Linked DNA regions of Homo sapiens. The protein of the gene in region 3 purifies or fractionates together with the protein of the main gene of each other region. This does not show direct contact. Each region holds a gene or a part of one and is shown on either strand. Other genes may lie near its edges.

Region 1 (3,500 bases), on a different chromosome or scaffold from region 3:
ATTTCCACATACAAAAGAATGAAATTGGATACAAAAAGCAACACAAAATGTATCAAAGACCTAATTGGAAAAGCCAAAATGATAAAACTCTTAGAAAAAATATGCATAGATTTTGACTCTGGATTAGACAATGTTTTTTAAGATACGATACCAAAAGTACAGACAAGAAAAATAAAAAATAGATAACCCAGAGTCCATCAAATTTAAAACTTAGTGCTTCAAAGGACATTATCAAGAAAGCAAAAATTCACAAAATGATAGTAAATATTTGAAACCATATATCTTAAAGGGACCCCTATCCGGAAAATATAAAGAACTTTTACTCAATAATAAGAAGGGCCAGGTGTGGTGACTCACAACTGTAATCCTAGCACTCTGGGAGGCTGAGGAGGGAGGATTGCTTGAGCCCAGGAGTTTGAGACCCCGTCTCTATAAAAAAATTTAAAAACTAGCCAGGCATAGTGGCTCATACCTGTAGTCCCTGCTACTTGGGAGGCTGAGGTGGGAGGATTGCCTGAGTCCAGGAGTTTGAGGCTGCAGTCAACTATGATCCCACCACTGCACCCTAGCCTGGGTGACAGAGGGAGACCTTGCCTCTAAAACATAAAAAATAAATAAATAAACAAGCCAATTAAAAAATGGGCAAAGGATTTGAAAAGACATTTACTCAAAGAATATATACATACAAACGAATCTTACAAATACGATGTTGAATAAATGAAGCCAGATGCAAAAGAATATACACAGTATGATTCCATTTATATGAAGTTGTAGAACAGGCAAAACTAATCTACGTTAAATCAAATGGTTTCCTTTATGGAGAGTGGAGGGCCATGGGGATGATCTCCTAGAGTGCTGGTAATGTTTTATTTCTTTTTTATTTTCCTTTTTTTTTTTTTTTTGAGATGGAGTCTTACACTGTCGCCCAGGCTGGAGTGCAATGGTGTTATCTCGGCTCACTGAAACCTCTGCCTCCCAAGTTCACGAGATTCTCCTGCCTCAGCCTCCCTAGTAGCTGGGATTACAGGCACACACCGCCACACCTGGCTAGTTTTTTTTTTTTTTTGTATTTTTAATAGAGACGAGGTTTCACTATGTTGGCCAGGCTGGTCTTGAACTCCTGACCTCGTGATCCGCCTGCCTCAGCCTCCCAAAGTGCTAGGATTACAGGAGTGAGACACCGCACCTGGCCAATGTTTTATTTCTTGACCTGCATGATGTTTACAAGCTGTGTTCCTTCTATGATAACTCATTAGGCTTTACATTGTGATTTGCATACTTTCTGAGTGTTAGTTATGCTTCCTATAAGAAGTTTATTGTCCCTGCAATATGGGGGACAATGGAAAAATGTCTAATTATCTTACCTTGTTCCTATCTTTTACGTGTATAAGCACCAGTATCAGGTGTTTAGTCTAGTGGCTCAATCATTCCAAGTAATAGTACTATAGTCTAAGAAGAAAGAATTTAAGACCTATGAATACAGTTTCTATGAATGAAGATAAATTCCAAAGAGGAAAGGAAGACTTTCCAGAATTGATTCATTTGATTCTGTTGACAGAAAACAACATCAACCCTTTCTTTTATGAAAGCGGCTGACATTTAAAGAATATGTGGTGATGATCTCCTCTTCCCATTCGACACATGTTCAGTAGTTATCAATAATACTAGTTACTAAGATATGTTTTAGTAATTATTGTATTAATAAAGTATGAATACTGTTAACAGTTTAGGGTTCCTGTTTAATTAGAACCAAAAAATTTCTTTGTTTAAAGCCCTCTGTTTAGCCAAGAAATCAACTTGAGTTATTAGCAATAAACTCTGACACCTCAGGGTTGGAACCTGCCAAATTTTTCTACTTTATCTAGTCAGATGCTTTGCTTAGTAGGCTTGCTTTGTGTCTTATATTTCTGTCTGGGTATTAATATAAGTGCCATTAGAATACTTAGACTTGCTATATAGAACCTGCTGATTTTAACTATAATCTTTAGCTGATAAACTTTTCATTTTCATTTTTTAAATGAAACAGGAATATCCAACCATAAGATCTGCAACTAAATTTTTATTATTACACCTTTTTCTTGGAAGAAAATCAGCATCTGAAATATATAATGTATGACTTCAAGTGGAGCACTGTAATCCACAAGCAGACTCAGATTTGGGCACTTCAGGTGAGTCACATATGGAACACAGCATTCTTTGCAAAAATTAATCTTTTGGCCCCATTCAATGTGGTTATTTTTGGCCAGGCACAGTGGCTCACGCCTGTAATCCCAGCACTTTGGGAGGCCAAGACTGGTGGATTACCTGAGGTCAGGAGTTCAAGGCCATCCTGGCCAGCATGGCAAAACCCTGTCTCTACTAAAAATACAAAAATTAGCCGGGCATGGTGGCGTGCGCCTGTAATCCCAGCTACTTGGGAACAAAGCTTGTTTGTTTGTTTGAGCAGAGTCTCCCACTGTCACCCAGGCTGGAGTGCAGTGGTGTGATCTCTGCTGACTGCAACCTCCGTCTCCCATGGGCAAGCAATTCTCGTGCCTCAGCCTCCTCAGTAGCTGGGATTACAGGTGTGCACCACCATGCCCAGCTAGTTTTTCTGTTTTTAGTAGAAATGGGGTTTCACCATGTTGGCCTCAAGTGATCCGCCTGCCTTCGCCTCCCAAAGTGAAGCTACTGTACTCAGTCCCCATTCAAAGTGTTTTATTCATTAAAGATAATGAATAATAAATGAATTAATACTATCTAAAATGTATTGAGTACTTATTATGGGCCAGACACTATGCTAGACACTTTATCTCATCTTATTTTCACAATGCTACACCATAAATACTACTATTATCCCCATTTTACAGATAAGACAATGTCATCTCAGAAAAGTTAGGTCAATTACCTAAGATCACGCAGTAAGCTAGGATTCAAACCTAAATCCAGCTGAATTCTGAGCTCCTGCTCTTATCTGCCTTGTAGAGACTAATTATTAGGAACACGTTCTAATACAGCACTGTCCAACAGGGCTTTCTGCAATGATGGAAATGTCCTTTATCTGTGCTAATATGGTAGCCACTACACCCATGGCTATTGAGCACTTGAAATGTGGCTAATGTACCCAATACTGAAGTTTTAATTTTTTTGAAATTTTAATTAATTTTTTTTTGAGACGGAGTCTTGCTCTGTCTCCCAGACAGGAGCGCAATGGCGTGATCTCTGCTCACTGCAAGCTCCGCCTCCCAGGTTCACACCATTCTCCTGCCTCAGCCTCCCGAGTAGCTGGGACTACAGGAGCCCGCCACCACGCCTGGCTAATTTTTTGTATTTTTAGTAGAGATGGGGTTTCACCATGTTAGCCAGGATGGTCTCGATCTCCGGACCTCATGATCCACCCGCCTCGGCCTCCCAAAGTGCTGGGATTACAGGCGTGAGCCACCATGCCCGGCTTTTTTATTTTTATTTTTTTTTTGAGATAGGGTCTCGCTCTGTTGCCCAGGCTGGAGTGCAGCTGCGTC
Region 2 (3,500 bases), on a different chromosome or scaffold from region 3:
CAGATCATTTGAGGTCAGGAGTTCAAGACCAGCCTGGCCAACATGGTGAAACCCCATCTCTACTAAAAATACAAAAATTAACCGGCTGTGGTGGTGGCCGCCCGTAATCCCATCTACTTAGGAGGCTGAGGCAGGAGAATCACTTGAACCCGGGAGGCAGAGGTTGCAGTGAGCCAAAATCGCGCCACTGCACTCCAGCCTAGGCGACAGAACAAAGCTCTGTCTTAAAAAAAAACAAACAAAAAACAAATAAAAGCTAACCCTATTCCCAGCATTGAGCACAGAGCCTGGCCCAGAGCCGGGATGTAGTATCTGGCTGTTAGAGACTGAATTCCTTCAAACCATTGACCAATTAACAACGGCTGTCGCTTGAAGTAGGGCTAGCAAATTAAAAATAACAGAATGCTTTTGTTTCCTCTTGTGTTTTCCCCTCCAATTGTTTCACCTTCACTCACTTTTTGCACTTGGTAAGATTTCTTCTTGCATGTCTGCACACTGCAGACTTCTCCAGCACAAAACAAAGAATTACAACATCCTCCTTACCGGCTGCCACTGATTACTTGATTAAATCGTCACCTCTAATTTACCCTGAGCACCTGCAAAGTTCTTCTCCATGCACCAGATAGTCTTCAGGGTCGGAATTACATATTCTCTGCAGCCTTCTCAAGAGCTTCACTCCAACATCAGTGTCTCCACCCCTCCCTCTCATCCTCAGGACTGGATTTTTTTTTTTTTTTAAGACAGAGTCTCGCTCTGTCGCCCAGGCTGGAGTGCAGTGGCGCGATCTCGGCTCACTGCAAGCTCTGCCTCCTGCGTTCACACCATTCTCCTGCCTCAGCCTCCCGAGTAGCTGGGACTATAGGCACCCGCCACCATGCCTGGCTAATTTTTCGTATTTTTAGTAGAGACGGGGTTTCACCGTCTTAAGATGGTCTCAATCTCTTGACCTCGTGATCCACCTGCCTCGGCCTCCCAAAGTGCTTAGATTACAGGCGTGAGCCACCGCACCTGGCCAGGACTGGATTTATTCCATCCAAACCCAAACACTTTCTTACTCTCTGTTTTTTTTCAGACAGGGTCTCATCTTGTGTTGCCCAAGGTGGAGTACAGTGGCATGATCACAGTTTACTGCAGTCTCTACCTCCTGGGCTCAAGCGATCCTCCTGCCTCAGCCTCCCAGGAAGCTGGGACTACAGGCGTGGGCCAACACGCCAAGTTAATTTTTAAATTTTTTTGTAGAGATGGGATCTCGCAGCCGGGGGCGGTGGCTCACGCCTGTAATTGTAGCACTTTGGGAGGCTGCGGGGGCAGATCACTTGAGCCCAGGAGTTCAAGACCAGCCTGGGCAACACGGCAAAACCCCATCTCTACAAAAAATACAAAAATTAGCTGGGCATGGTGGTGTGCACCTGTGGTCCCAGCTACGTGGGAGGCTGAGGTGGGGGAGGTCAACACTGTAGTGAGCTGAGATTGTGCCACTGCACTCTAGCCTGGGAGCCACAGAGCAAGACTCCGTCTCAAAAAAAAAAAAAAAAAAAAAAGGCTGGGCTGGGCTCAGTGGCCCATGCCTGTAATCTCAGCACTTTGGGAGGCTGAGGCGGGCAGATCACCTGAGGTCAGGAGTTCGAGACGAGGCTGACCAACACGGAGAAACCCCGTCTCTACTAAAAACACAAAATTACCCAGGCGTGGCAGTGCATGCCTGTAATCCCAGCTACTCGGGAGGCTGAGGCAGGAGAACTGCTTGAACCCGGAAGGCAGAGGTTGCAGTGAGCCAAGATCACGCCATTGCACTCCAGCCTGGGCAACAAGAGCAAAACTCCATCTCAAAAAAAAAAAAAGGGCAGAAAAGAGATGAGGTCTTGCTATGTTGTCCAGGCTGGTCTCGAACTCCTGAGCTCAAGTGATTTCCCCTCCAGCCTCAGCTTCCCAAGACTTTGAGATTAGGGTCTGAGTCACCTTGCCTGGCCATACCCAAACTCTTTCTAGTAACTTTCATCTTGGCTGGGCGCGGTGGCTCACGCCTGTAATCCCAGCACTTTGGGAGGCCGAGGCGGGCAGATCACGAGGTCAGGAGATCGAGACCATCCTGGTTAACACGGTGAAACCCCATCTCTACTACAAATACAAAAATTAGCCGGGCGTGGTGGTGGGCGCCTGTAGTCCCAGCTACTCGGGAGGCTGAGGCAGGAGAATGGCTTGAACCCGGGAGGCGGAGCTTGCAGTGAGCCAAGATCGGCCACTGCACTCCAGCCTGGGCGACAGAGTGAGACTCTGTCCCAAAAACAACAACAACAACAACAACAAAAAACCTTTCATCTTAAAAGTAACCACTGGCTGGGCGGGTGGCTCACACCTGTAATGCCAGTACTTTGGGAGGCCGAGGCGGGTGGATCACCTGAGCTCAGGAGTTTTGAGACCAGCCTGACCAACATGGCAAAACCCCGTCTCTACTAAAAATACAAAAATTAGCTGGGTGTGGTGGCGGGTGCCTGTAATCCCAGCTACTCGGGAAGCTGAGGCAGGAAATCATTTGAACCCGGGAGGCAGAGTTTGCAGTGAGCCGAGATCACACCAAAAAAAAAAAAAAAGAGAGAGAAAAGAAAACTCATGACCCAAAGTTGTAACTCATGGGTTAACAGGATGAAATGCAGAGTAGGGAAGGGCATGGTAAGCAGCTGGAATAGCATGTGCAAATGTGCAGAGGCCTCCAAGGAATGCTAAAGGAGGGCTGGTCCTCACCAGCAGCCTGGCAGGCATAGGCGAAGACGATGATGTCGTCGAAAGGCCAAGTGTAGTTGGGATGTGGCGGGTAGAAAGCAAGCTGGTCTGCCCCTTCAGCCCGCAGGGATGCAAGGAAGGTGGAGTGGACCATGGGGACACGGAAGCAGCCCCGGCGCTGGCGGTTCTTGGTGGGGAAGTACTCGGCTGTGCGGCGGTAGTAGCCCTGGGGAAAAGGGATGCTTTGGGCTGTGAGAGGGCTCCCCTGCCCCTGCCCACAGACCCCAAGGCCTCAGGCTCTCTGCTCTCCACGTCCCTCCTTCCAGGACCTCAGTCCACCCAAGGCCCCCATCCCGGCCTCACCTGGGGGGTGATCCCACACCAGAAGTTGGAGTAGTAGGTCTGGGAGTCCAGCATTGGGGCCACCACTGGAAGCCCCTGCCCCATGAGAAGCCGCAGAGTCTGATTGTTGGTCAGAATGTTGTCTGTGTCTGCAAACTTTGAGGAGGGGACGTCACAGGCTCCAGCCCTGCCTGGGCTGCAGCCCCCCAAGGAGTTCACTGAGTGGTCCTGCCAGAGACCCAGCGTGGCTCCTAGGATCCAGTGGGAATGCTCTTACAGAGGTCTCACAAACTCAGTACATCTGTTTCTGGACCAAGGCTCTAGTCTGGGGCACTGACTCAGGGACTGGGTCCAGAGATTATACCTGAGTTACTGATCTAAGACCTTTATCTGGGATCTGGCTTAGAAAATGGATCCAAACACCTACTCTGAGCTCT
Region 3 (2,410 bases):
AAGAAGCACTGCCTTCCGAATTTTTAGTCGAAACCAGTAGGATAGGTAGAAAAAGATAAACTAAGGCTCATGAAGACACTAAGCCAAGACCACTAAACAGGCAAATTTCCAGTTGGAACCCCAAGAACCCACTAATTTGCTTCCTTTACCTTGTTGCTATTGCATATATGGTTTCCCTAAGCCTACCTAATTGGTCAGCCCACTTCCTCTTTCTTTCTGGGGAGTCTCTGTACTGTAACTGCAGGGCAAGCTGAGAGACATACCACTGCCCAGAAAAGTGTGTCTATGGTCAAGTGCAACTCACCATCTACCCTCAAGAATTCAACTCCCTAATAAAACCCACACCACAGCTGCCTTGGCCCTCACATGGGGAGGAACAGGTTGGATACTTTAAGGGGGCACACCTGTACCACGGTATCAAGCTCTGTTAAATGGCTCCTTTTATTTTAAGGCAGCACCAAGCGGTCCCAAACCAGCAGCAAGAATTGCACACACGATAATGGCAAATTTAATGTGATTTATTCATATAATAACTCATGCTGCACTTAACACAATACAAACTTATGTTTTTCAATAGTGTAGAAGATGTGAATTCATAAAAGCTGTAAGTTAATGAGTACTGAATAAAAATCACCTGCAAAAGGTTCTTTCAGAAACACACCCAAAACTACAATAAATTAGGGCAAGGGGTTTGTAAATGGCAGCTTCAGTCCTACTCCAAACCTTCTCACCCATATAAATCATAGTCCCTGACTTTTATAGAGGAAAAACCAAAAGCAGTTAACCCCTGGCCTTTGCTCCTCTCCTTGTCCACGTCCCAACTCTTGTTTCCTAGCATGTGCTGAATACACTACTAGACCTTGAGCTTTTGTTCCTCATTGGCAGTGGGAGCCCTCTTGCCTGGGCCGTCACATTACTCAGAGCCAAGTACCTGAGGGTTGGCTCCCAGCCACCTCATCTGGAACCAACTTGTCGGTTTGTTCTCTCCCACCCAAACTCTTCCCCCATCAGAGGATAAGGACTATCACCTAGAATCCAGAATCAAACAAGGGCATCCTTTGGTGATTAGCACCATACATGACAGTGATGTCAGGCAGGGCATGGAGTAATAGCCGGGAAACTCTGATCCCAAAGAAAACCCTTGAGCGTGGGCTCCCCACAACAGACTGTGTTTTATCAGACACTCAGAGGAAAGTGGCATCTGTCCCATCAGGTGAGTTAGTGGACAGGGACACCAACGGGAGCTTTCAGTAACATGTGGAAAGGCAAGACCCAAGAGCAGTGAGGGCTCTTGGCCATTATGGCCAAACGATTGGTGATGTGAAGGCAACAACTGACAGTCCTCTCTGCTTGAAGTTCTCATGTGCAGAAGAGAGAAACTGTCCTGAAGTACCAGGGGACCACTGAGTGCAGTGGGGCTGATGGCAGGTTCCACCACAACGGGCTATGCCTAAGGCCCCAAGGGACACCCTGGGTTCTACTTTAATCCCAGATCCCAGGCCAGAATTCAAGAGATTCCTCTGAAGAGCTATAACCTGCAGGATGGACTTGGGAAAGGAAAAGGGGCTGAGCCTCTATTTGGGAGTTTATACCCAAAGCGCTTCACACAGTAAGGTATGGACAGCTTGGGAACCTGACAGGCGGCAAAAGATTGGGCAGAGAGGGAAGAGTCAGTTTCCCTCTGTAGCTAGGGTGAGGCTGCTCCAGAGTCACTTGGTTACCTCCCAGCACAAACCCCAACATCTTAAGTGATTAAAGATTAATGTAGGTTGGGTGTATACCCAAAACAATTAAGAGCAGGGACTCGAACAGATATTTGTACATCCTTGTTGACAGCAACATTATTGCAATGGCCAAAAGGTAGAAATGACCCAAGTGGTCACTGGTGGATGAATGGATAAGCGGAACGTGGTACATACATTTCAGTCCAAAAAAAAAAATTAATGAAGCAGGGCTGTGCAGCCATTACAGCTGTTAATCAAGAACTGTCAATGACATAAAAAACCAAGCTAACATTGTGTTAGATCAAAAAAACAAGATATAGATTATATGTGGTAGTCTGCATGTATGTAAAGCTAAATATGTCCATATCTGCATATATGTCTTTAGGCAGGTAAAAGAATGAAAGGAAATATACAAATGTCAGCAGTGGGTATGTCTCAAATGCTGGGCTTCTTTTCATCTCCAGTTTTCACATGTTCCAGATTTTATGCAATGAGCATATATTACTCTGATAATGGGGTGGAGAGACACAGTAAGCATAAAACCAAACCCCAAACAATGCAAAGGAAAATGAATATTTATTCAATGTCCAGATTGGGGAGGGGTCTGTGTGTTTAACAGGAAAAGATACAGAAAAAAACCTATCACACAGGAAAAGATAAATATGTTTGATTATTTTAAAAGGTGA
Region 4 (3,500 bases), on a different chromosome or scaffold from region 3:
GCACACTTTATAAGTCTTCTCTTTGGAATTTATGAATGTTCTTTCATGGAAATATGTGGGATGGGGGGAGGATGACTAAGAAATATTTAACATGTTTACACAGACCTGTATGTTAAATATAGTTATAAGGAAACAAGTTTGAGAAAAACAATTGTCCATACTCCACAGATGGGTGTGTTTGTTTGTTTGTTTGTTTGTTTCAGGTTCCTGGGATTTTAACAAAGCTCTTTTCACTTTTAAAGATTTTTAATTTCCCTTCTCAGAAATTCATTTTAATTTCTCCCCTCCCATGAAATGTCTTCAACATATATATAATGTTCTATATCAGAGGTAGTGTTTCCTAACTTTCTGAAATTGTTAAACCTTCCTGCATTATTTTTAAAGCCTGTGAGAAAATTATACCTCAATAACATGTATTGAGAGTTTACTATTTGTCAAGTTTAATGCTAAGTATTTTGCATGGATTTTTCTCCCTTTATCCTCCCAACAGACTCCTGAGGAGGAAATTTATTATCTGCATTTTATAGATGAGGAAATTGAGGCTTAGAGATGGGCAAATGTAAACTTCAGCCTCAGACAGTGTGACACCAGAGCTTACTCAATTATATGGGTAGAAATGCCTTCTAGTGGTAGAAATGGCAATACTGTATGTATTTCTAGGTCAGGACTTTCTGACCAAAAAGTTAGTTTATTACTTTTAATATACTTAACTCCGAATTATCTAAAACCCTTCAAGTCCTTCTTGACATATAATATGTAATATATTAATTATATTAGAAATGTAATACCTAAGCCATTAGGTACATCTCTATGTATGTATATGCATTGTGTGTATGTGTATTTACATTTTAATTGCTAAGCCAAAGATAGAATGCTTTTGCTCTGCTAGTGTATATTATTTCTTCTTTTACTCTATTCTATTCGAGTAAAATATAATATACATAATTTTCATCATATATGACAATCTTAGGAAGGCTCTTTAATTCAGTTAAAAAAAATACTTTGTCCATTACCATAAATTTTCTATTATTAAAACTTTTGGCTCTTTTAAAACTTTCTGCCTTCTTTCCTCACGTCAGGTAAAATTCCCCCAGAAAGTACACTGATATTTAATATTGATCTCCTGGAGATTCGAAATGGACCAAGATCCCATGAATCATTCCAAGAAATGGATCTTAATGATGACTGGAAACTCTCTAAAGATGAGGTGACCTTTCCTTCTTCCTACTCCTCTTTCTACTTTTCTTTGGTTGTTTGGGGTTTTGTTTTGTTTTGTTTTTGTAACTCACTTTTTAAATGAATATGTGTATATTTCAAATCTACTTTTATTTAGGTAACATTTATTTATAAGTTTTCTTAAAATACTGATGCTTTGAAAGTGGACTTTTTCATAGTGAATCACTGTTTTGGAGAGAAATATATTAAGACTTAAAAAGCACCATTCAATCTTTTGCTTTTTTCTTCCCAATGCTTAGGGTTCACTGTATCTTATGCTTACCCTTGGGTCTTTGAAAGAACAATTTTGCCAAGACAGTTTCCATCTGGAGTTACTGTATAAGAAGCTAGCTGTCCTGAGAAATATCTCATGTGGACAGTTTCTGTTAAAACTGTAGACTGGCTGTTAAATACATCTTGTAGTGTTTTCCTGGCAATTAACAGCAAGCAACTTACATGCTCTGTTTTGTTCAGGTTGCCCCAGAGAAAAGAGACCCCAGCCTGGGTTTTACACAGCAGGGCTCCAGCCCCATCAAAATCTGAGCCTTTGGGTAAAGAGAAAGGAAGAAGAGGCTTCTCCTTATAATTCGGCCATTGCTACACATACCTGTCTTAGTCTGGCTGCTGCGGGGAAAGAAGTGGAGGGAGATATTTATTCCTGTTTTTTATCTACTCACACTCCATTCTGTCCTGACTGGTCAGATATCAAGTCCCTTTCTATGCTTTGATCAAATTCATTCTAATGGCCAGGAAATGATTAAGTCTTGAATAAGCCAAATTGTTACGAACCAGGGGTTCATGATCCACAGCCACTAAATTTATAACACCTCATAGTATTACCAGTCACATGCCTTTTTCTTCCATCCAAGATAAATTTTAATTCCCTTTCATTAAATAATTTTGAATATATAACACAGTCACATGGTTCAAAACAAAAATCTATTTATTTATTTATTTATTTATTTATTTATTTATTTATTTATTTATTTCCTGAGAGGGAGTCTTGCTCTGTTGCCCAGCCTGGAGTGCAGTGGCAAAATCTCGGCTCACTGCAACCTCTGCCTCCTGGGTTCAAGCAATTCTGCCTCAGCCTCCCAAGTAGCTGCACCATCATGCCTGGCTGATTTTTGTATTTTTAGTAGAGATGGGGTTTCACCATATTGGCCAGGCTGGTCTCAAACTCCTGACCTCGTGATCTGCCCACCTCGGCCTTCCAAAGTGCTGGGATTACAGACGTGAACCACTGTGCCCAGCAGAAAGATATTTATTTAAAAGTCTTAGCTGGGTGAGGTGGCTCACACTTGTAATCCTACCACTTTGGAAGGCTGAGGCAGGAAGATTGCTTGAGGCTGAGACTTCAAGACCAACCTGGCCAACATAGGAAGACTTTATCTCTATTATTTACTGTTTTTTTTTTTTTTAGACGGAATCTCACTCTGTTGCCAGGCTGGATTGCAGTGGTGCGATCTCAGCTCACTGCAGCCTCTGTGTCCCGGGTTCAAGCGATTCTCCTGCCTCGGCCTGCCAGGTAGCTGGGACTACAGGTGCACGCCACCATACCCAGCTAATTGTCGTATTTTTAATAGAGACAGGGTTTCACCATGTTGGCCAGGATGGTTTCAAGCTCCTGACTTTGTGATCCGCCTGCCTTGGCCTCCCAAAGTGCTGGGATTACAGGTGTGAGCTACCGCATCCGGCCTATTATTTACATATTTTTAAAAGTCTTTCTCCTACCTACATCCTCTTCTATTCTATTATCCCCACATCCAGTTTTATTAATTACTTTTTTCTTTCTTTCTGTTTTTTTTTTTGTAGAGATGAGGTCTCGCTATGTACAAGCATGCACCATTGCACCCGGCTTAGTTTTATTAGTTTCTAATATATCCTTTCAGTGTTTCTTTCTGCAAATCCAAATACATAGTCTTATTTCCCCCTTTCTTACACAAAAAGAAGCAAACTATACATGCTGTTTTGTCGTTTTGCTTTATTCACACAATATATCCTAGAAATACATTCTACATTAATCCATAGAGTTTAATGGATTAATGGATCTCTCCCCCACCCCTTTTTTTAACAACTGCATTAAATCACTTTAACTTAAAAATAAATATATACTATATGTGTACTTCTTGAAAGCTGGGGGAGAGAGGATTTGAAATTGCTGGTCTAAACAGAAGGAAGAGAGGTGATATAATTAAAACTGAAAATATAGGCTGATTTTCATTGTGGTGAATCTTGTGGGAAATTGAAAACAATATTTATATTTTTAAATATCTGAATGAAAT
Region 5 (4,266 bases), on a different chromosome or scaffold from region 3:
CGGGAGGAGATCACCACCTTCATCGATGAGACACCTCTGCCTTCTCCGACTGCCTCACCAGGGCACTCTCCTCGTCGGCCCCGGCCACTGGGCCTCTCACCCCGCCGACTCTCCCTTGGGTCCCCTGAGAGCAGAGCCGTTGGACTTCCTTTGGGACTAAGCGCAGGGAGACGCTGCTCCCTGACGGGGGGTGAAGAAAGTGCAAGGGCTTGGGGAGGATCCTGGGGCCCAGGCAACCCCATCTTTCCCCAGCTGACCCTGTGAGCCCAAGCAGGCCTGCTGAACTCAGAGGAGAAAGCCTGAGTGAGTAACACCTCATTCTGGCCGAGAGTAGGGCAGCTGCCTCCAGACTCTGGGGAGACGGGCGCTAGATTTGGGGCTCAGAAGGCCCTGCTCTCTCCCATCCAAGTGACCAGATGCCCTACTCAGCTTCCATCACCCCTAGCAATATGTATTAAAGTCTGAAGTGTTGCCATGGAAACCTCAGTGTCCAGTGTACTGCGGTGGAAAGGGGCTTGGAGGGTGGAGTGGCTCACAGGGGACACGACAGAGCAGGGGCAGCAGACAGAGGCACAGAAGGACACATGGAGAAATGATCACATGCTCCACCAGGCAGCCTCGCACAGGGAAGGCTGGGAGGAGCATATCCTGCTGGGGGCGGGGCTTGAGGACACACATCTTCGTTGGTTGGGGTATGAAGGATCTCTGTTCAGATTTGTTGAGGTGGTTTTAGAGCGTGGCTCCAGCCCCAGTGCCCAACTCTCCTTCTAACCTCAAATCCATGCAGGGGCTCACTTTATGGGCAGGAAAGGTTTTGGGGCTGATGCAGTGTCCCGGGCCTGGACACCTCCTCCTTGCTGCATTTTAAAGCTCTTTCTCCAAAGGAGTGCAGGGGTGGATGAGTGTGTGTGTGGGCGGGGGTGGGAGTGCAGGGGTGGATGAGTGTGTGTGTGGGGGAGTGCAGGGGTGGATGAGTGTGTGGGGGGGGTGGGAGTGCAGGGGTGGATGAGTGTGGGGGGGTGGGAGTGCAGGGGTGGATGAGTGTGGGGGGGTGGGGGGGGGCGAGGGGGGGATCGGCGTCCACACTCCTTTTTCTGGACCCAGAAGCGTGTGTGTGGAGGGAACACAGCCCCAGTAGTTACCCCCAGACCTCAGGGGCTGAAGTCACCGCTGGGGCTGAAGTCATCCTTCATGGATGCCCAGGCCTGCTCCAGTTCCCGCCTTTTGCCCTCCTCCTCCCAGTTTCTCCCTCTTATTCCACACTAGACCAGCTTTGTCCACTCAGCACTCTTCTCTCTCCATCTTTTCACATGGGCCTCTCCCACCATCGGGTCTCAGCCCCATCTTCTCTCTCTCTCTCTCTCTCGGCCTCCCTCATTATTTCTCCCTCTCCCTCCGCCTCTCCATCTCTCCTTCCTCCCCCTCCCTCCCCTTCCCCCCTTTCCTCTCCCTCCCTCTCGGCTCCCGCATTTCCCCTCGGCTGCCGGCGGCTCCGACATCATGCTCCGGCTCCTCCGGCCGCTGCTGCTACTGCTGCTGCTGCCTCCCCCGGGGTCCCCTGAGCCCCCCGGCCTGACCCAGCTGTCCCCGGGGGCGCCCCCGCAGGCCCCCGACTTGCTCTACGCTGACGGGCTGCGCGCCTACGCGGCCGGGGCTTGGGCGCCGGCCGTGGCGCTGCTGCGGGAGGCGCTGCGGAGCCAGGCGGCGCTGGGCCGGGTGCGGCTGGATTGCGGGGCGAGCTGCGCGGCCGATCCGGGCGCCGCGCTCCCCGCCGTGCTTCTCGGGGCCCCGGAGCCCGACTCCGGGCCGGGACCCACGCAGGGGTCCTGGGAGCGACAGCTTCTCCGTGCAGCGCTCCGCCGCGCAGACTGCCTGACCCAGTGCGCAGCACGGAGGCTGGGCCCCGGGGGCGCGGCGCGGCTTCGCGTGGGGAGCGCGCTCCGGGACGCCTTCCGCCGTCGGGAGCCCTACAACTACCTGCAGAGGGCCTATTACCAGGTGGGGAGCGGGCCGGGCAGCTCCGAGGGTCCCAGCCCTCACCACGACGCTGTCCTACTTTGCGTTGCCCAGGAGTAGGCGGAATGCTGTTGCCCGGGCCCCGCACGGGGCTGGGGAGCGTACCGCGGGCCTCTGCGTAGGAGCTGGCTAAGCGACCGCGAGGACCTCTTGAGATCGCAGAGGAGCAGCCGAGGGGGAGTGCGAGCAGAATGGGAATGGGGCGGGGAGGTCGTGAGGTGGGACGGGAGCAGATCGAAGATGGAGGGACAGGGCCGCCTCTTCCTAGGAATGAAGCGGAGGCGGTGGGGGCGAAACCGGCTCTCGGACGGGAAGTGTGCGTGGGTGTGTGTGTGTGTCGGGGGTGGTGGTGAGTGTGAACCTTCGCTTGGGGCAGGAGGTAGCTTCGGAAAGGAAGGAGCAGACGGAGGCAAGGTTGGGGTCCTCCGAGGCCAGACCTCTGCGGGCGGGGAGGGGACAGCACGCCGCAGCCGCCGGTACCGCAGCAGTTGCCTACGTGGCTGGGGAAGCGGGGCGCCGGTTGTACTCACCTCAGCTCAGGGTCCTAGAGACCTGCGGGTTTTGCTGGTCGCTGAGGTCTCCCCCACTTCCCCACCTCACTTAAGCCATCACTTCCACCTGGTCTCCCAAATTGAGGTCCTGAAGTCCTGAGACCCATGTCCCACCCAACTCCGACGTCTTTAGATCCCCTTTCCCTCGGTGCCAGCCTTCTGAGAGTCCCAACGTTCTGGCCTCTAGGGGATCTGCAGTTCGGGCGGTGGGCGGTTCTGATTGGCCAGTCTTCCATGAGGCTCTGGGGCACCCAGAGTGTGTGTCTGGGGTAGGGTGGGGAGGCTGGCCAGGGGGCAGAGGTCTGCCCCCCGTCCCAGGGCTCTGATGCCCTCCTCCCTTCGCCTCCTCAGTTGAAGAAGCTGGATCTGGCAGCTGCGGCAGCACACACCTTCTTTGTAGCAAACCCCATGCACCTGCAGATGCGGGAGGACATGGCTAAGTACAGACGAATGTCGGGAGTTCGGCCCCAGAGCTTCCGGGACCTGGAGACGCCCCCACACTGGGTGAGAATCCCAGCACCACCCCTGTCTTGCCACCAGCCTTTTCCTGGCTGGATACACAGGCCTCACTAAACTGTGCGTTGTGCTGCTTGAGCATACAGATGGGGTAATGATCCTCAGCGACCCTGGCTGGGAGTCCTTCTCTAGGACTTCGTTTCCTTCCTGGATGATCACTGAAATCTGATGTTCTAACATTATGATTCTGAGGCCCACCCTTATTCTTCTCCACGGTGAAGAGGGACATGGAGTCCTTGCCCCAAATGAGACCAACACCCCTCTCCTCTCTACCTCCCAGTTTGGCAACCCCTGGATCTTAGGTGACTGACTGCTCCCTTCCCCAACAGGCAGCCTATGACACTGGCCTGGAGCTACTGGGGCGCCAGGAGGCAGGACTGGCACTGCCCAGGCTAGAGGAGGCTCTTCAGGGGAGCCTGGCCCAGATGGAGAGCTGCCGTGCTGACTGTGAGGGGCCTGAGGAGCAGCAGGGGGCTGAAGAAGAGGAGGATGGGGCTGCGAGCCAGGGGGGCCTCTATGAGGCCATTGCAGGTAAGGGTCCCGTGTGTGAGGGGGTGGGTCGGTGCCCAGGGAGGGGCATGAACAAGCTGAATGGCTTATGGGTTTCCTCTGCAGGACACTGGATTCAGGTCCTGCAGTGCCGGCAACGCTGTGTGGGGGAAACAGCCACACGCCCTGGTCGCAGCTTCCCTGTCCCAGACTTCCTTCCCAACCAGCTGAGGCGGCTACATGAGGCCCATGCTCAGGGTCAGTTGGGGAAGGGTGGAAACGGGGAGTGAAGATTTGCCTCTGCTGCTATCCTGAGCTCCATCTCTCTATCCCTCCCATCTGTCTCTGGATTTGTAGTTTCACTGTCAGGGCTGCATGGGAACCATCACTTCACAAGGACTCTAATTTGCCCTCCTTTGGCGCCTGTGACAAGCTCAGGAGATGGGCTTCCTTCTGCCTTGCTGCTTCTCACCTTCCTTTATTTTCCCCCCTCTTGCTCTTCTTTGAACTCTCCAGCTAAGGTATGTTTGCACCAGTGTTTGAAAGAACCGGCAGCTGAACTTGTCTGCCAGTGGGAAGGGGGCTCTTGGAGTTAGCTGTCTGGCCTCTGGAGACCACCTTCTCCAGCACTGCCTCTGCCCCAAGGATCAATGTGCTCTAAGTATTCATCCCCCAACCCCTGACCTTGTCGCTC
Region 6 (3,362 bases), on a different chromosome or scaffold from region 3:
CTGCAGGGCCTCTGTGCACAGCCTGCCCAATTTTGGGAGCTGGGTTGCACCTGCTGTGTAGCACCTGCCCACACTCCTTTGGCAGTTCAGGTATCCAGCCTTCTGGCCTGTGCTGTGGGACAGTTCTGGGACCCCTGGGCTGGTCCTGGTCTTACCTGTCAGTCAGTGCCAGTTCCTGCAAAATAAATGTAAACAAAGGCAAGAGGTGAGATCTGAATGCGTGCCGACGCCCTCATTCAATTGTGGTTTGAGTGGAGTTGGTGCCAAGGTGGTCCTACCTACCCTCTAGTTTGCTGGGCCCTAGCATGCTGTTGACACAAGGGGAAGTCCCCTGTGTCTGGGTGAGTCGCATGGGCCAGCCACCCCCCCACTGCCACTGGGAATTGCTGGGAGCCCCTGTCCTGTGAACGGATGCCCTCTTGCTTTGATAAGCTGCCTGGTGGCTGTTGTTTAAATCTAGACTTCCCATCCAGCCCTCGCACAACTCCTATGCCTTCTGACAAGTTTCAGTAAAAACCACAGGAGTTCAAGAAAGATTATGACTCCTGTTCCGTTACTTTTTGTGATCTCCTTAGATTGCTTCTCCCAGATGGTAGGAGCTGCCCCTTTTGGAGTCTATTGAAGGAGGTGCCCTGGTGGCCACACTGGGCTGGAGGGGATCTGAGGACCCATGTCCACCGGAGAAAACCACGAATGTACCTGAAGCTCTGCTTCTGGCCACTGAACATAGGAAGCCTGCTGCTCAGGGCCCAGGTGCTGTGGGTCAAAGGAAACACAGACACGTTTCATAAATCTTTCTTTTATTCCAAGTTTCAAGTATGTGTAAGTGTCTGTGATGACACATGGTGCTCAGTGAGCGCCCTGTCACCCAGGACCCTGGTTATAGCACCGTTGAATCAAAAACCCACAGAATTGGAACAACAGGAAGATGAGTCACTTACACAGTGGGTTGGTTTTTCCTTAGATTTGTACTTCCAAGGGCCCAGATGTCCAATATTAAATGCCAATAAATTTGTGCTTCAAAAGTCTGTGAAAATATAATAATAGTATCTTGAAAAACAAGGGGTGGGGGCTGTGGATAGGGAAGCACCAAGTCTGAGCTCACCAAATCAGAAAACACGTGGCACCATTATCTATGTGACTATAATAGACTGGAGGGTTTCATTGGAAGAGAGGTCTAGATATTCAAGTTTGCTGAAAATGACCTAAGAGGAGGAGAAATGGGGTTCGGCCTGACCCTCTCTGGGGGGGCTGATGAGCCCGCATTTGTCCACGTGTCACTGGAGAAGAGCGCGGCTCCACTGTGTCTGTGGTGAGCTCGGTGGCTTGAATGGGACAAGCTGATGACAACCTGTCTGTGGGCCTCATCCCGGTCAAGACTGGCTCTTGGTGCTGCTCCAGCAGCTCTGTGGACAAACCCCACCCCCGCAAGGCCTTCTCAGGCCCCAAGGGTCAGGTAGCAGCCCCCCATGAATGATGGGAGGGTCCCTTTCCTCCTGAGCTTAGACACAGCTGTAGGGGTCTGGACAGGGTGGGGGCCGGGCTGGGTGAGGGCACGTGGCATTCGTTCAGACTCAGTTGTTGGGGGGAAGTCCCATGGAAGATGTGGTGTGGCCTGAAGACAGGAGTTGACCACGCAGGCTTCTTTACTGCGGGGACAGCTGGTTGTTTAAGAGCCCGCTGAAGTGCTCAAACTTTTTTTCCGTCTCTTCGCTGAAGGAACCACCTGAAGAGCGAGAATCGGGTAGAGAGAGTGGACAAATGAGATGCTCGGGCCTTGCCTGACCCTGAGCCAGGGGAGTGGGCCTCAGGGGCTGCTGGGGCCACCTGTGTGTGCCCTCCTCAAAAGGACAGGTGCCAGGCACTGGCCATCTCTAGGGCTGGGCACATAGCAGGTGCTCTGTCAAAGTTGAGTGAACGAGTGAATAAATATAGCGCCTTTAATTTTAACCTTTTGCCAAGAGTGAGGCCCATGACTTTTCCTGCAGAGGAAAAAGCTCTGCCTTCCCTTTTGTTCCCCAAGTCCTATCATCCAAGGAAAAAAGTGTCTTTATTGGAGACTAGAAATAACAGTAGTTTGCTAGCTTCCAGCTCTCGACAGAAAAACCTGATAGGCAGAGCCCACAGATTGCTGATGCCCACATTTTTGAGGTCACATACATAATGAGCCAGTGGCCTCAGCTCCAACCCTTAAAAAGCCTTGGGGTCTGCACTGGGCTGGCCTGGTCCTGTACCATCCTCTATCCGTGGCCGGAGCTGGCTGTAAAAACTCAGTCTCCATCCAGGCCTGTGTGTCTGTGGCTTCTGTCCTGAATGTGGAAATGTGATGCTGGCTGCATTCCCCGAGCTCTTTACCCAAATTAGGAAGCTGCCTCTGGGTCCTTGAGAAAGTAGGGCAGCTCCCGCCTGCTTCCTGGAGTGGGGGCGGCCTGGCCTTACCTATGTGGCAGTTGTACATCCAGATGCGGTGGCCGTCATAGCGGCTCCTGCATTTCATGATGTTGTTGGAGTAATCGGATTCTGCAACCTCGAAGTTGGGGTTAATAACAACCTAGGGAGAAGCAGGGCAGAGGAGGCTGCTTGTTCCCTCTGCGGCCACCTCCACCCAGGCCTGGGGCTCTGAGAGACCAGCACCTCAGGGAAGGGGAGCGTGGCAGGTGCCGGGACCCAAGACGGGGGTCTGTGGGTCTCAACAAAGTCCTTGGGGAGGGGAAGAGATGAGTCAGGGAGCAGAGGAAGCATGGCCTGGAAGAGGGAAACCCTGCCCTCTGTCCATATCCGTGTAACACACACCCCTCTACCCAGGGTGGGCCTTCGGAAGGGGGTCACCCACTCCTGGGAGTTCTGGGGAAGGCAGAAGTTGGGGTCTGGGGAGGCCCCAAAAAGAAGATGCTGAAGAGAAGCAGAAGGGTGCAGGGAGGACCTGGCGGTGTGGGAACCTGGAAGAGGGCTGCCTGGGCGTTGGAGATGGGACACTCGTCACAGGCGTGTGACTGTGGACATGTCCCTTCCTCTCTCTGTAAAGTGACAGGTGGGACTTGGGGATCCATGTCCCTGTCTGCTCTGCTGGCCGAGGGCCTGGCTCTGGGGCTGCTGGAGAAGTTGCACCCTCTCCCCATCCTTCCACCCACCCCTGTATCCGCATCCCCCCAGCTACAGCAGGAATAGGAAGGACATATTCTGGGAGAGTGTCTGTGAGGGAACAGAAAAGGGGAGGTTTACGGTGAGGACCCGAGGAGAAAAGAGAAAGGGAGGGAGAGGGAGAAGAGACAACAGTGGTGAACAGAGGGGCAGAGGACACAGATGACAGGCCTTCCCTCGAGGGTCCTGCCACATTTGGAAGGGCTGCGACCCACAGCAGG
Region 7 (3,500 bases), on a different chromosome or scaffold from region 3:
CCAGGAGATCAAAAATCCAGCCTGGGCAACATAGTGAGATCTCCATCTCGAAAAAACAAAACCCTAGAATATAGTTTATGGTGATTTCATATTCACAGTAGGTAAAAGACTATGCAATAGCAAAACACTGTCACCTACGTTAGTGTCTAAAACAGTAACAGATGACAGTGAAAGATTTAACAAGTTAGAACCATTATTTCACTTTTTTTATATCCTGTTATGAATACTCAGTATATATATAAAACATCTTACCTTAAGAAGATTTGTCAAGTAATTCTTCAAAAATTCCTTAAGTCGTTTATATAATTCCAGGCCAACAAACTGAGCTCCTCCAGGTGTCTGCCCCTTTTTCGACTTAGAAGGAGGAACTCCAGCTCCTCGTGCTTGGTTTGACTGGTGAACACTAGTACAGTAGTTATAAACATGACTTGGAGAAAAGTTAAGGAAACCAACATATATCACAGACGTTAACGGTCATTAACATAAACATATTTTCTTATATTTCATTACCAATGCATTCCCAATATATCAACCAAAACCTGTTAAAAACTAGAATGGAACAAAGATCCCATTCACACTATCCATAAAGCTAAAAGTCAACAAGCCCCATTCACAAGGTTGTTGGTAGGCCTTGAGAGCAACACCGCCAAGGTGGAGAAGGGAACATTCCAGGAGGGAGGTTGCCTATAAAAAAATCTGGACCTTTTAGATTATCTGATGTGACTGACCTTGTGGAAAACTGTCCCAAAAGAAAAATGCAATTACTGACTCCAGGAAAAACAAAAAGCTAACAATAAGCACTGTCTATTATGATGCTCAGCTGTAACTTTTTCAGAGGCACAGATTCTAAATATTGAAATAACACAAACTTTATTTTAAAATGACTCAGAGAGCCAAGTCCTTATATTACAATAGTCATAGCCATCTAAAACTTATCAGTGAACGGCAGCAGTGTCCACACACTCCTGAGAAAGAGAGAGATGTATAAACCACAGCACAGACAGCTGATTGCAAAACAGCTGCATCTGCAGGGGGAGCGCAGAGAATGAGAAGATGGGGCCAGGCAGGGCAGAAAACCACCGTGTTCTGTTGTATCCTTTAAATATGATGAGCTTATCTGCATGTATTATTAATTGAATAAAATGAACGGAAAGATACTTATACTCAGAAAGATCAACAAAACAGAACAAAACAATATTCTGGTATAATTAAGAATTTACTATATAAAGATACTTCAAGACAACGGGTAAAAGATAGATTATCTAATAAATGGCATGAGGGCAAGATATTTCTAAATATTCCATGTTATATTCCAAAATATATTACAAATGGATTAAGATTTAAAATATACAAGCTAAAACAGTAAAACCAAGAATATATATGTGAACGCTTATCTGTTCTCAGGCTGGAGCGGCCCTTTCTAAGTAAGATCACACAAAAAAATGAATTCAGGCTGGGCGCGGTGGCTCGCGCCTGTAATCCCAGCACTCTGGGAGGCCGAGACAGGTGGATCACAAGGTCAGGAGATTGAGACCATCCTGGCTAACACGGTGAAACCCCATCTCTACTAAAAACACACACAAAAAATTAGCCGGGCGTGGTGGCAGGCGCCTGTAGTCCCAGCTACTCGGGAGGCTGAGGCAGGAGAATGGCATGAACCCGGGAGGCGGAGCTTGCAGCGAGCTGAGATCATGCCACTGCACTCCAGCCTGGGCGACAGAGCAAGACTCTGTCTCAAAAAATAAATAAATAAATTCAAAATTGTAGATTAAGATGAAATACCTTAAACTATCTTTAATAAATTAAGGTAATTTAAAGCAATTAAAAAAATGAATCTCTATGGAAACATGAACAAAATATACCACAGAAAATCTAAAAGGTAAAATAAATATATACTAATGCCCCCAAACCTAATAAAATAACCAATCTAGGTAATAATCAAAGAACTATACTTTAAAACAATGAAAAATTATTAACTATTTCAATTGTATAGAGAATCACAGATTACAATAAACAACTACTGTATACTCATGACCCAGTTTTGATAGATCTTACTGCATTCCCACACTTGTCTCATATTCCACCTACAGCCTCCCTCAACTTTTGAGAAAATAAAATATTACAGGTTATAAGTGAAGCACTATATTCTCCCTCTTTCATCCCACTCCTTCCTCTTACCCTAGCAAATAGCACCATGATTTGGTATATATCATTCCTATGTTTTTATATTTTGCTGGATAAATGTGTATCAAATATATTTCACATGTTCTACATTTTGTTTTGTTTTTTTTGAGATGGAGTTTCACTCTTGTTGCCCAGACTGGAGTGCAATGGCGTGATCTCAGCTCACAACCTCTACCTCCTGGGTTCAAGCGATTCTCCTGCCTCAGCCTCCCGAGTAGCTGTGGTTACAGGCAGGCGCCACCACGCCTGGCTAATTTTGTATGTTTAGTAGACATGAGGTTTCTCCATGTAGGTCAGGCTGGTCTCAAACTCCCAACTTCAGGCTATCCAGCCTCCTCGGCCTCCCAAACTGCTGGGATTACAGGCGTGAGCCACCGCGTCTGGCCATGTTCTACATTTTTAAATTATACAAACTGTAATATGTACATTTGCTCTGCCATTTGTTTTTGATGGTATCTGACATAGCCGCAGCTGTAATATACTGTGTAACGCACATTTACAATACTTCATCAACTCTCTTGGTGGTGGACCTTGCTAATAGTCCTTTTGGCAGATACCTATTTTTTGTGTATTTACAAAGCTGCAAAGAATAAAACTAGCAGGTCTCCTTGAGTACAAGTTTCTTGGAGCACAGAAATACTAAGTGACAAAGTGACAAGAGAGGTTTTTTTTTTTTTTTTTTTTGAGACAGAGTCTCACTCTGTCTCCCAGGCTGTAGTGCAGTGATGTAATCTCGGCTCACTGCAACCTCTGCCTCCCGGGATCAAGCGATTCTCCTGAGTAGATGTGATTACGGGCGCCTGCCACCATTCCTGGCTAATTTTTGTATTTTTAGTAGAGACAGGGTTTCACCATATTGGTCAGGTTGGTCTTGAACTCCTGACCTCAGGCAATCCACCTGCCTCGACCTCCCAAAGTTGCTAGGATTACAGATGTGAGCCACCTTGCCAGGCCCTTTTAAACAATTTTTTGTAGAGATGGGGTCTTGCTATGTTGCCCTGGCTGGTCCAAAATTCTTGGGCTCAAGCAATCCTCCTGTTTGGCCTCCCAAAGTGGTGGGTTTAACTTTATTAAGAGTTGCCAACTTAGTGCTACAAAGCGGCTATCCAGCACCCTGTAGTGCATGAGTTTTCATCGACCACAACCTTGGCCTTGCATTCATACTGTGGTTTATTATGGTTTTAATATCCATTTCTAGGGCATAGACAGTTTTGTTTTGTTTTTTTTTTTTTTTAAAGAGACAGGATCTCACTATGTTGCCCAGGCTGGAGAGCAGTGGCTATTCACAGACATGATCATAGCAGGCTACTGCCTCA

What was found.
Region 1: the proteins of IDS (region 3) and AP3M1 purify together in Homo sapiens (affinity purification with mass spectrometry; 2 studies listed by BioGRID and IntAct, with this or other methods). This does not show direct contact.
Region 2: the proteins of IDS (region 3) and CERCAM purify together in Homo sapiens (affinity purification with mass spectrometry; 3 studies listed by BioGRID and IntAct, with this or other methods). This does not show direct contact.
Region 4: the proteins of IDS (region 3) and FKBP14 purify together in Homo sapiens (affinity purification with mass spectrometry; 3 studies listed by BioGRID and IntAct, with this or other methods). This does not show direct contact.
Region 5: the proteins of IDS (region 3) and P3H3 purify together in Homo sapiens (affinity purification with mass spectrometry; 3 studies listed by BioGRID and IntAct, with this or other methods). This does not show direct contact.
Region 6: the proteins of IDS (region 3) and LOXL2 purify together in Homo sapiens (affinity purification with mass spectrometry; 2 studies listed by BioGRID and IntAct, with this or other methods). This does not show direct contact.
Region 7: the proteins of IDS (region 3) and CUL1 purify together in Homo sapiens (affinity purification with mass spectrometry; 3 studies listed by BioGRID and IntAct, with this or other methods). This does not show direct contact.

Annotation. Positions count from the first base shown.
Region 1 is NC_000010.11:74,140,829-74,144,328, forward strand, and holds part of AP3M1 (AP-3 complex subunit mu-1), read right to left. Parts: intron 1-3,500. UniProt on the Homo sapiens protein: Part of the AP-3 complex, an adaptor-related complex which is not clathrin-associated. The complex is associated with the Golgi region as well as more peripheral structures.
Region 2 is NC_000009.12:128,423,857-128,427,356, reverse strand, and holds part of CERCAM (inactive glycosyltransferase 25 family member 3 isoform a precursor), read right to left. Parts: intron 3,220-3,500; coding exon 3,085-3,219; intron 2,948-3,084; coding exon 2,743-2,947; intron 1-2,742. UniProt on the Homo sapiens protein: Probable cell adhesion protein involved in leukocyte transmigration across the blood-brain barrier. Does not express any beta-galactosyltransferase activity in vitro.
Region 3 is NC_000023.11:149,476,488-149,478,897, forward strand, and holds the end of IDS (iduronate 2-sulfatase isoform a preproprotein), read right to left. Parts: 3' UTR 501-2,410; downstream 1-500. UniProt on the Homo sapiens protein: Lysosomal enzyme involved in the degradation pathway of dermatan sulfate and heparan sulfate.
Region 4 is NC_000007.14:30,016,703-30,020,202, reverse strand, and holds part of FKBP14 (peptidyl-prolyl cis-trans isomerase FKBP14 precursor), read left to right. Parts: intron 1-1,079; coding exon 1,080-1,207; intron 1,208-3,500. UniProt on the Homo sapiens protein: PPIase which accelerates the folding of proteins during protein synthesis. Has a preference for substrates containing 4-hydroxylproline modifications, including type III collagen. May also target type VI and type X collagens.
Region 5 is NC_000012.12:6,826,941-6,831,206, forward strand, and holds the start of P3H3 (prolyl 3-hydroxylase 3 precursor), read left to right. Parts: upstream 1-1,466; 5' UTR 1,467-1,500; coding exon 1,501-1,998; intron 1,999-2,918; coding exon 2,919-3,071; intron 3,072-3,412; coding exon 3,413-3,614; intron 3,615-3,698; coding exon 3,699-3,830; intron 3,831-4,266. Other genes in the region: GPR162 (probable G-protein coupled receptor 162), read left to right, coding at 1-264. UniProt on the Homo sapiens protein: Part of a complex composed of PLOD1, P3H3 and P3H4 that catalyzes hydroxylation of lysine residues in collagen alpha chains and is required for normal assembly and cross-linkling of collagen fibrils.
Region 6 is NC_000008.11:23,296,397-23,299,758, forward strand, and holds the end of LOXL2 (lysyl oxidase homolog 2 precursor), read right to left. Parts: intron 2,552-3,362; coding exon 2,440-2,551; intron 1,727-2,439; coding exon 1,647-1,726; 3' UTR 501-1,646; downstream 1-500. UniProt on the Homo sapiens protein: Mediates the post-translational oxidative deamination of lysine residues on target proteins leading to the formation of deaminated lysine (allysine).
Region 7 is NC_000007.14:148,750,903-148,754,402, reverse strand, and holds part of CUL1 (cullin-1), read right to left. Parts: intron 428-3,500; coding exon 253-427; intron 1-252. UniProt on the Homo sapiens protein: Core component of multiple cullin-RING-based SCF (SKP1-CUL1-F-box protein) E3 ubiquitin-protein ligase complexes, which mediate the ubiquitination of proteins involved in cell cycle progression, signal transduction and transcription.